Regions from separate parts of the Homo sapiens genome. Here region 2 is linked to region 1. Evidence: fine-mapped expression QTL. Tissue or cell type: blood mononuclear cells. Region 1 holds a variant in brackets; the other region holds the start of a gene. All regions are shown on one strand. Distances are from middle to middle.

Evidence for each region. PIP is the estimated chance that this variant, and not a neighbour inherited with it, causes the effect.
Region 2: it holds the start of CCDC180, and the variant in region 1 is the best candidate, but not a certain one, in a credible set for the expression of CCDC180 in blood mononuclear cells (TOPMed, PIP 0.83).

Annotation. Positions count from the first base shown.
Region 1 is chr9:97,375,002-97,379,152 of GRCh38, forward strand. CCDC180 (coiled-coil domain containing 180) reads left to right here. Exons shown (of 37, transcript NM_020893.6): 36 at 453-588; 37 at 1,762-3,750. The coding sequence ends at 1,893. SUGT1P4-STRA6LP-CCDC180 (SUGT1P4-STRA6LP-CCDC180 readthrough) reads left to right here. Exons shown (of 45, transcript NR_036529.1): 44 at 453-588; 45 at 1,762-2,294. Among named protein-coding and RNA genes, the nearest start is that of MIR1302-8, 13 kb to the left of the region's middle. The variant A/G (reference allele first, on the strand shown) is at 1,878.
Region 2 is chr9:97,305,597-97,309,747 of GRCh38, forward strand. It overlaps CCDC180 (coiled-coil domain containing 180), which reads left to right and starts at 2,063. Exons shown (of 37, transcript NM_020893.6): 1 at 2,063-2,210; 2 at 2,387-2,536; 3 at 3,818-4,008. The coding sequence starts at 2,468. It overlaps SUGT1P4-STRA6LP-CCDC180 (SUGT1P4-STRA6LP-CCDC180 readthrough), which reads left to right. Exons shown (of 45, transcript NR_036529.1): 13 at 2,140-2,210; 14 at 2,387-2,536; 15 at 3,818-4,008. RefSeq lists a silencer at 1,531-1,825 and enhancers at 1,531-1,825, 1,768-2,268.

The DNA.
Region 1 (4,151 bases):
CATGTGTGAAGAGAGTTGGCAATGTGCCTGTTCCCTGTGCCCCAAGAGTGTGACTCTGCAAGAAGAAGCAGAGCAGTGATTTGCCCAGCTATGTTCTCAGAAGTGGTGTTCAGGGCATCATAGGAAAAGCATACCAGGCACTGGTGGCCACCGCCTGGCTGGCAGATCAGTGAGTAAACTGAGGCTCAGAAAGGGGAGCAACTTGAGCTGTGGCACTCCCCTTCCCCCCCCAGAACCCCAGACCGTGCACAGCAATGAGACCAGTGGGGGCTAATATGAAACAGCTTGAACAAGTGCAGCATTCACATTCAGTATGTTTTTTCTTTTCATTAAGATATTTAAAGCCATGATAATTTTTTCAAAGAAATGCTAAGCTTTTCCAACAGGGTTGGTAGGTGGATTATGAAAGATGAAGACAAGCCTGTGAGATTTTCACACATGTTTGTTTGTAGGAAGTGGCCAGGGATCAAACCCACCGAAGTCACCATCCAAAACAAGATTCTTCTCCAGCCAACATCATCGATTTCCACCACCAAAACCACCCTGGGCCACCTGGCGGCCGTGGAAGCCCGAGATGCTGTGTACCTGGTGAGACAGGGTGGAGTGGGCGTGTCCCAGGGAGCACAGCTCAGGTCGGCTGCCTTGGGAAGGGGGAGCTTCCCATCACCCGGCACCCAACATTTGGCTGGTGCAGCAGGCAACACATGTCAGCACACCCCAGAGCTGCAGGTCTCAACACTCAGGACAGTCACCATTCACAGGCACGAGGACATTAATGTGGGTCTGAGGCGTGATCCCAATGCTGTGGGAGCCCAGCTGAGGGACATCCCACCCAGATTAGGGGTGAAGGCTTTCCAAAGGCACAGTAGTGTCACAGCTAGGGAACATTGTCACCAGGCACGGAAGCAATGGTAGCCGTAGGCTCAGGGGGGACACAGCAGCAGGAGCAGTCACAGCTCCTGAGAACTTACTGGGAAGTACTTACTGAGAGCTTCTGCTCTTGACATGAGGCATCTCACTGAATCCTCCTAACAACTCCACAAGGGAGGTAAAATTATTATCATTTCATTGATGAGGACACTGAGGCTTAAAGAAACTTGTCCCTTCTATGCCACTACAGAGTGGCAGAGCCAGGATTTGATCCCAGTGCCTGTCAGACCCCCTGGGGACAGCCTGATGAGGAGGCTACACCCAGTTGCCACTTGAGGGACCTCTTGGCTTTGAAGATCTGTGGACCTTTGGTCCTGATGTCCAGAGAGAAACCTTGTCCTGCCCAGAGACCAGCTGGCCCCCTTACTGGGAGAGGCTGAAGTGCCCAGGGTCAGCCCTCCCCCAGCTTCCCCTCCAAGCCCCAGGCAGAGGGTGCAGTTCGGCCTGCTGAGTTCAGTGAGGGTGGGAGGCCTGGAAGGCCCAGCCTACCAAAAAATCGGGAGCCCTGAGCTCCCGAGAGGCCACAGTGTGGGACAGAGCTCAGGAAGGAGTGCTGAGCCTAGAGTCAGATAGACACAGGTCCTAGTCCCTGCTCAGCCTCCTTCTAGCTGGGTGACCCCAGGCCAGGCTCTGAGCCTCAGTTTTCCTGTCTTGTAAAATGGGGAAAACAACTAGGACTACCTGGTTTCTACCTGAGAAGTGACTTGGAGAACTCTTGCCAGTGCCTGGAATGGGTTAAAAACCACCTGCCAGCAAGTTACAGCATTGCCCTAGGGGAGAGGGTCCAGATGTCTCTCCTCATGTGGACCCCTCCTGCTACCTTCCTTCTAGAAATATTTAGCATCATTTGAGGAGGAGCTAAAGAGGATCCAGGATGACTGTACATCTCAGATAAAGGAGGCTCAGCGCTGGAAGGACAGCTGGAAGCAGTCCCTGCACACTATCCA[A/G]GGCCTGTATGTGTGACCCTCCGCCCCACCATGAATAAACACTTTCTTATACAGACTCCTTCCCTGTCCATCTACCTGCCTACCTACTTTCCGTCCATCCCTCCCTCCCTTCATCCCTCCACCCCTGCTCTGTGCCGGGCACTGTAGCTTTACCAGCGAACAGGACACAGCATGGTCCCTGCCCACGTGGAGCCCTCTTCCCATGAGGAAGGCAAGCATGAAAGGGGAATTCCACGTGGTTAGCAGGGAGGGTGAGTACCAGGAATCAGTCACTTCAAATAGGCACCAGAGCTTCAAAGGACATCACCTCCAAACAGCATGCTGGGCAGGGCACGTCATCTTGAAAAATGAAATAAAGGTCATGGGAAAATGATATTTTAATTTAACAGAATAAACAAGTATGGGTTATAATTGCAACTCTGCACTGGTTCCTAGACCCAACAAATAACTAATCCAATGTTGATTGGTATTTGTGCCACAATTTGTCTGAGCAAATTGCAATATTTTGGAAAAAAAAAAATCTTCCAGGCTCCTTTAGTCCTGTGTTGCCCAGATCATTCTCTTGGAGTCCTCCAGCCTGCCAGTCTCTTGTTCGTCAACTCTCTTCTTCAATTACATGGCGTGAGCGTACAGCCTTCATTTGTCGGTAGCTGTGTGTGTCATCTGGACAGGTTTCCTCAGCCATAGACCTAGGAGGCCCCAGCTCCCAAATTTCCAGCCCCTGAAAGCTGTGTGACCCTCCAAGTGCAGTTCCCTCACCTGGGGACACTCACTCTGCTCTCCTGGTTTGCTCCACCCAGTGAGGCCCTGCTTGGTTAGCTTGGTTAGCTTGGTGGCCTTTGTGCACTGAAGCCAGGAGAGTGAGGAGTCCCCTTCCATCAAGGCAAAAGCAATCTCCTGTTCTTTTCTGTGCTCCCCCCACCCCCACCCCAATGTGCTACCTTTCATTGCTTATTATTCCGAAAGGAATATATGCGCATTGTAGAAAAAAGAATTTATGAAACCAGCAAAAGGATAACTTTAAAATCCTGAGCCGGGCGCGGTGGCTCACGCCTGTAATCCTAGCACTTTGGGAGGCCAAGGCGAGCAGATCATCTGAGCTCAGGAGTTCGGGGCCAGCTGAGGCAACATGACGAAACCCCATATCTACTAAAAATACAAAAAGTTAGCCAGGCATGGTGGCACACACCTGTAATCCCAGCTACTGGGGAGGCTGAGGCATGAGAATCGCTTTAACCTGGGAGGTGGAGGTTGCAGTGAGCCAAGATCATGCCACTTCACTCTGGCCTGAGCAACAGAATGAGACTCTGTCTCAAATAAACGAATAAATAAATAATAAAATCCTGGAATCTAGAGACAGTCACTGTCCATAGCATCTTTCCATGTATGTGAGTTATTTTTATAAAATGGAATCATAACATGCATTAGGTTCCATAAACTGCTTGGTAAATGTTAACTGGATAAACCCTATGCCATATCCTTCAGTATTCATTTACATCATTGGTTTTCATACTTTTCTGACTCTGACCCACTGTATAAACATGTTCTAAACACACGGTCCTTGCACACATACACAACTTGAGACCAACAGGTCACAGGACAGCACTTAACCTTACTAGAAAGGCTGCTTTCTAATATTTTCTCCCTGCTTTTTAAATCCTAGCCCAGTCCACTAACTCAGTTCATGGCCCACAAAGGGGCTTTGATTGCAGTGTGGGACACTGTCATTTAAACAGCTGCAGAGTGTTCCCACTGCCTGGGGAACCAGATCGCCTCTGTCGGACAAGGGCGAGGATGTCCCATGCAGGGCTCCTAGAAAGAAGGCAGAGATGACATCCTCCCACATTAGCTCTTTGTACACATCTGTAATCATTCCTTAATCAGAGGGTGGCAGCTGTGGACATGGTGCCAAGTCACCCTCCAGGGAAACAGGCCACCCCCTCCCACCATTAAGCAGTGCCCATTGCCCATTGCCCATTGCCCATTTTTCTCGTCCACACCAAGGGTTCTAGTTTCAGGATTTGGGGGAAATTTTTTGCTGGTTTGGTTGGTGAGAAATCATATCTAAATCACTTTTCTAATAGTGAGTGAGACTGGACTCTCATCACCCCTATACCTGTACCCCAGGGACCCCCTTAGGCTCAAGAGGCCCAGCTTGACAAGCACTGAAGGAACCCAATGCCACTTTGTCTACCTTTTGGCTACTGTAGATCCACACAAAAACTTGTTCATGACTGCCCGTAGCAGCACTAAAAAATAGTGCTGTTATATCTA
Region 2 (4,151 bases), 69 kb before region 1:
CTTATGATTTCTATACTTTTAGATATGTACGCTATGCTTCAACATGCACATCCAATCAGTTGGTTAAATAACTTTTTTTCTGGCTAGTCACAGGTCAGATGGTTCAAGACTTGAATTACAGGGTCTAGATTCATATCCTAGATCTTCCTATCTTGGAGATCTTGGCCAAGTCACTGACTCTGAATTTCAGTTTCTTAATCAGTAAAATGGGTTACTTAAGGCACCCCTCTCATAGTCACTACAGGCATTAAATCTTCTCATTAAATATTTGCCTCTTGTGGTGGTCCTCATTGCTCTGCTTTGTCTGGACTATGCAGAAGACAGACAATAGCCTGGGATAGAGGAAGGAAAAGGATGGGGTCAAGAGACATTTTCAAAGTTAAGAGTGAGAGGGAAAAGATCAAAGATGATGCTGAGCTACAAGAAAAAGATCCAGAGGCCCTGGTGTCATTCTTTCCGTTCCCTATCTCTGGCTTTTTGCCCGTATCTAAACACAGGAGGTGGACTAACCAGATGATCTCTAACTGGTTAGTCTTTCGCTATGATATTATCAGGTTGGGAGGAGAATGGAAATGCCATCCAAAAGGCAAACACGAATTTCCACGTTTGATGCAAACTCAAACACAGTCTCAAAAACTTGGAAGTTAAGGGAGGTAAATTCTCAGTGCTGGGATTATGGGTTATTTTTACTTTCTCCATTGAAGTTTTTCATTTTTTTTTAATTTTTGACAATAAATATGGAGTTTAATCAAAACAAAATCCCATACTTCACATGTCCATGCCTGCTATTTATAGCCATATAATTTTTAAAAAGAAAGAAACCCCTAAATTACAGATGTGCCTGGAACCAGAACCCAGAAAGCATCTGGGTAGGGAAAATAGTTTCTAGTGTTCAAGGCCAAAGCCAGTAGGGCCTCCTTGGATGGGAAAGAGATATGAGACTGCAAGTAATTCCTGGACATTACCTATTTGTTATTGTGTTTTCATCCCTTCCCTCAGTCACCTACACGTTTTCTTTTTCCAGCTAAAATGAATCTAATCTTTGTTACAGTACTTCACCTTGTTAATAAAACCCAGGACTGAAGAATGAGAATAAAAGGGTTTTATACTCACCATTTCTTAATTTCTGATTCTAGTCTGGACAGAACAATCACTCATTCTAGAAAATTGGCATAGGGAGCATTTATTAGCAGTTGTAACATATCACTGCCAAAGGGAGGGATTCTGTAAGGCGGCACTGGGTGTCTCATATGTATGGGAAACCCGAGGCCACGTTCAGTGCCAACCACAAGCATTTTCATCTCTGGCCAGGCAAGCCTTGATCCCTGAATTTTGAGCTCTCAACCTCTTTTAAAATGAGAAAGAGATGGTTTCTTCCAGAGTCTTTCAGCTTCTAACTTACAGGCAAACACTACCGTATGCTGTCCCCCAGCAGAGATTGGTTTTAACCAAGGCAAATAAGTTAGGATGGACTTTGTTGACCGTGATGGCTCAGTGCTACATCTCATATATCCTACCACCTTTCAGAACATTTAATAGTGCTGCTCCTGGCAGCCCTGGGGTTGTAGTCCTTGTAGAGAGGAGGAACTGGCATTGAAAGAAATAGTTGAGTTTCACTACGCCACGTGGGGCGCTCCCATTGCTAAGAGCAATCTCCCCTCCCTGGGAAGAAAAGCGTGGGCGGGGCCGGGGCAGTCCCTCCCCTCCGCGTTGCCTTGGAGACCATGGGCGTCCAGCTGCAGTTGTCGCTGGACCGGCCCTGGCTGCCTTGAGAGGTGCTTTCTGCAGGCGGGGACGCGGCCAGGCCGGACGCAAGGCCTCCCTCCAATCTACCGGGCTCAGGGGGACGGCCAGGGGCTGCTCAGTCTACTTGGCGGGCTAGGGAGGGGGATGGCAGAGGCTGGTTGGGTCTTCTCAGCACACAGTAGGCGCCTAATTAGCGTGACCTGAATCAGGTTACTCTCTCCCTCCAATTCTCCTCCCTGTGTCCCATGGAGGGTGGATTAGGGTCCCGGATGCGAATTCTGCGCCGCATTAGAGTTCCAGTCCCAACCGACACCTTGAGCGCCGTTAACTTTTCCCCGAAGAGCATGGCAGAGTGAAGCACAAGCAATAATCCTGTATTATTCGCGTTCCCAGAGTCCCTTCGGATTTGCGCCATGCGCGGCGGGGAGAACCGGCCTCCTGCTCGAGTTCAGAGCTCATCTGAGGTTAGTTTCATCGTTTCGTTGAAAGTTAAAACCCTAAGTCGACGTTCCCCAGCCGCCTACCCCCCAGCAGAGAGTCCTTCCCCGGGGAGTCCTGCCCTGGGGTGCCGCCTCGAGGCCAGACGTCGTCCCGCCTGGACCTGAACCTGAGTTTGGGACGGGCGATTTCCCAACCTCAGGAATTGGAATTGAGACACCAAAGCCTAGACGCGTTTCCTGGACGACGGCTTCCCGGCAGGGGCATCCAGCCAGCGGCCAAGATGTCGTCAGTGGGGAAGGTGACCCAGGTTCCGAATGGGAAAGCCTACCAGCAGATCTTCCAGGCTGAGGTAGGAGCCGCCCTCTGTCCCGCTTTTCTCCATCCCCCTTCCCTTGCTTTCTTCCAAACTTCCCTCCCTCCCAGGGCTTCCCTACTGGAAATTGAATAAAACAAGGGCTTTGAAATTACTTTGATTTTAAAAATAATTCTTGCTTGTTCTTAAATCGTACCAATACAAAATTAGAATGTCAGTTCTTGAAAATTAGAAAACTTAAATTAAAATTTTAAATGTAAATTACTCAGAAATAGCCTGGATGGAACCACTGGGTGACCTCTGTTTTTCCCATGCATAAAAACATGACTAATTTTTGTATTTAAAAAATAGGTTTCATTCTGTACTAGTGTTTTGAAATCTGCTTTTTCTTCATAACAGTATCTCACAGACCCTTTTCTATGCCCGTGGGCGCCCATGTATTTCACCATACTGAGCAGCTCCCCACTTGTTGACCTAGGACTCCCATAACTGTATTAAAGTAAAGCCCTCTTGACAACAGTGTAGGTTGTTGAAATTGCCTTGTTCTCTCTAAAGCACTGTATAGACAAAACAAGATCTTAAAAGAAACACACAGACCCAAATTCTTCCTTTGAAGTTCTGTACTGCTTATTTAAAAGGGATTTGCATTCCTAATTTAAGCCTTAAATAATTATCTGTAAAACCTCTGGAAATTATAAAAGTATAAAGAAGCCAAAACAACAATTACATCACTCACATGATCCTGCTCTCTCTAAGGCCATTCTTAACTCATGGCATACTTCCCCCAGGGCCTTTTCCTATGCGTTTTAAATTTTGAGATCATACGGTATAGTTTTGGTTATAATTTCTAATTTCTAATTTCTATAATTCTATAATTTCTAATGCATGTAAGTGATATATTTAACCATATATCATCTCCTAAGCATTTCCTCAGGTTATAAAAAATTATTTGTGGGTCTCATCTTTAACAAATGCCTAACATTCCATCAAACAGACATACCATGTTTACTCAGCCAATCCCTATTATTAGTCAGTTCTGTTTTTCCAATTTCTTGTGATTATAAAAAAGGCTGAGATGTTCATCTTGATCTTCATTTAAGGTTCTTAGAAAGAGGCCTTCTTTGAAGTGGCTGAGTGACTGTTACTGGGAGGAGAGCTCTCCTATAGGGATATGACCTGGGGCTGAAGGCCTCCTGAAAAGTACCTTCCTGGGGGCAGCTCTCTGGATGTCTTTCTAGACAGCCACCATCAGCCTGAGAGTGCTAGGAAGTCAGCAGCTCTGACCACTCCCCCATCCTTGGTCCTCCCTGGATTCAGGTGCAGCTGGTCCACTCCCTGGCGGCCACCAGGAAGCGGGCTGCAGAGCGTTCTGTGACCCTGAAGAGTGGCAGGATACCCATGATGAAGAAGGTGGAGACTCCTGAAGGGGAGGTGATGTCTCCCCGACAGCAGAAGTGGATGCACAGCCTCCCCAACGACTGGATCATGGAAAACCCTGTTCTCCACAGGTAGGTCCTGTTGTCCATGCCTCACCCCCATGCACTAGGGTACCTGAGCCTTCAAAAACTCAAAAAGAGCCAGCACAAGATGAGTAGCCTGTAGGAATGAAGTCTCAAGTACCACCCCTAAAGCAGGGAGGCTAATACCTACC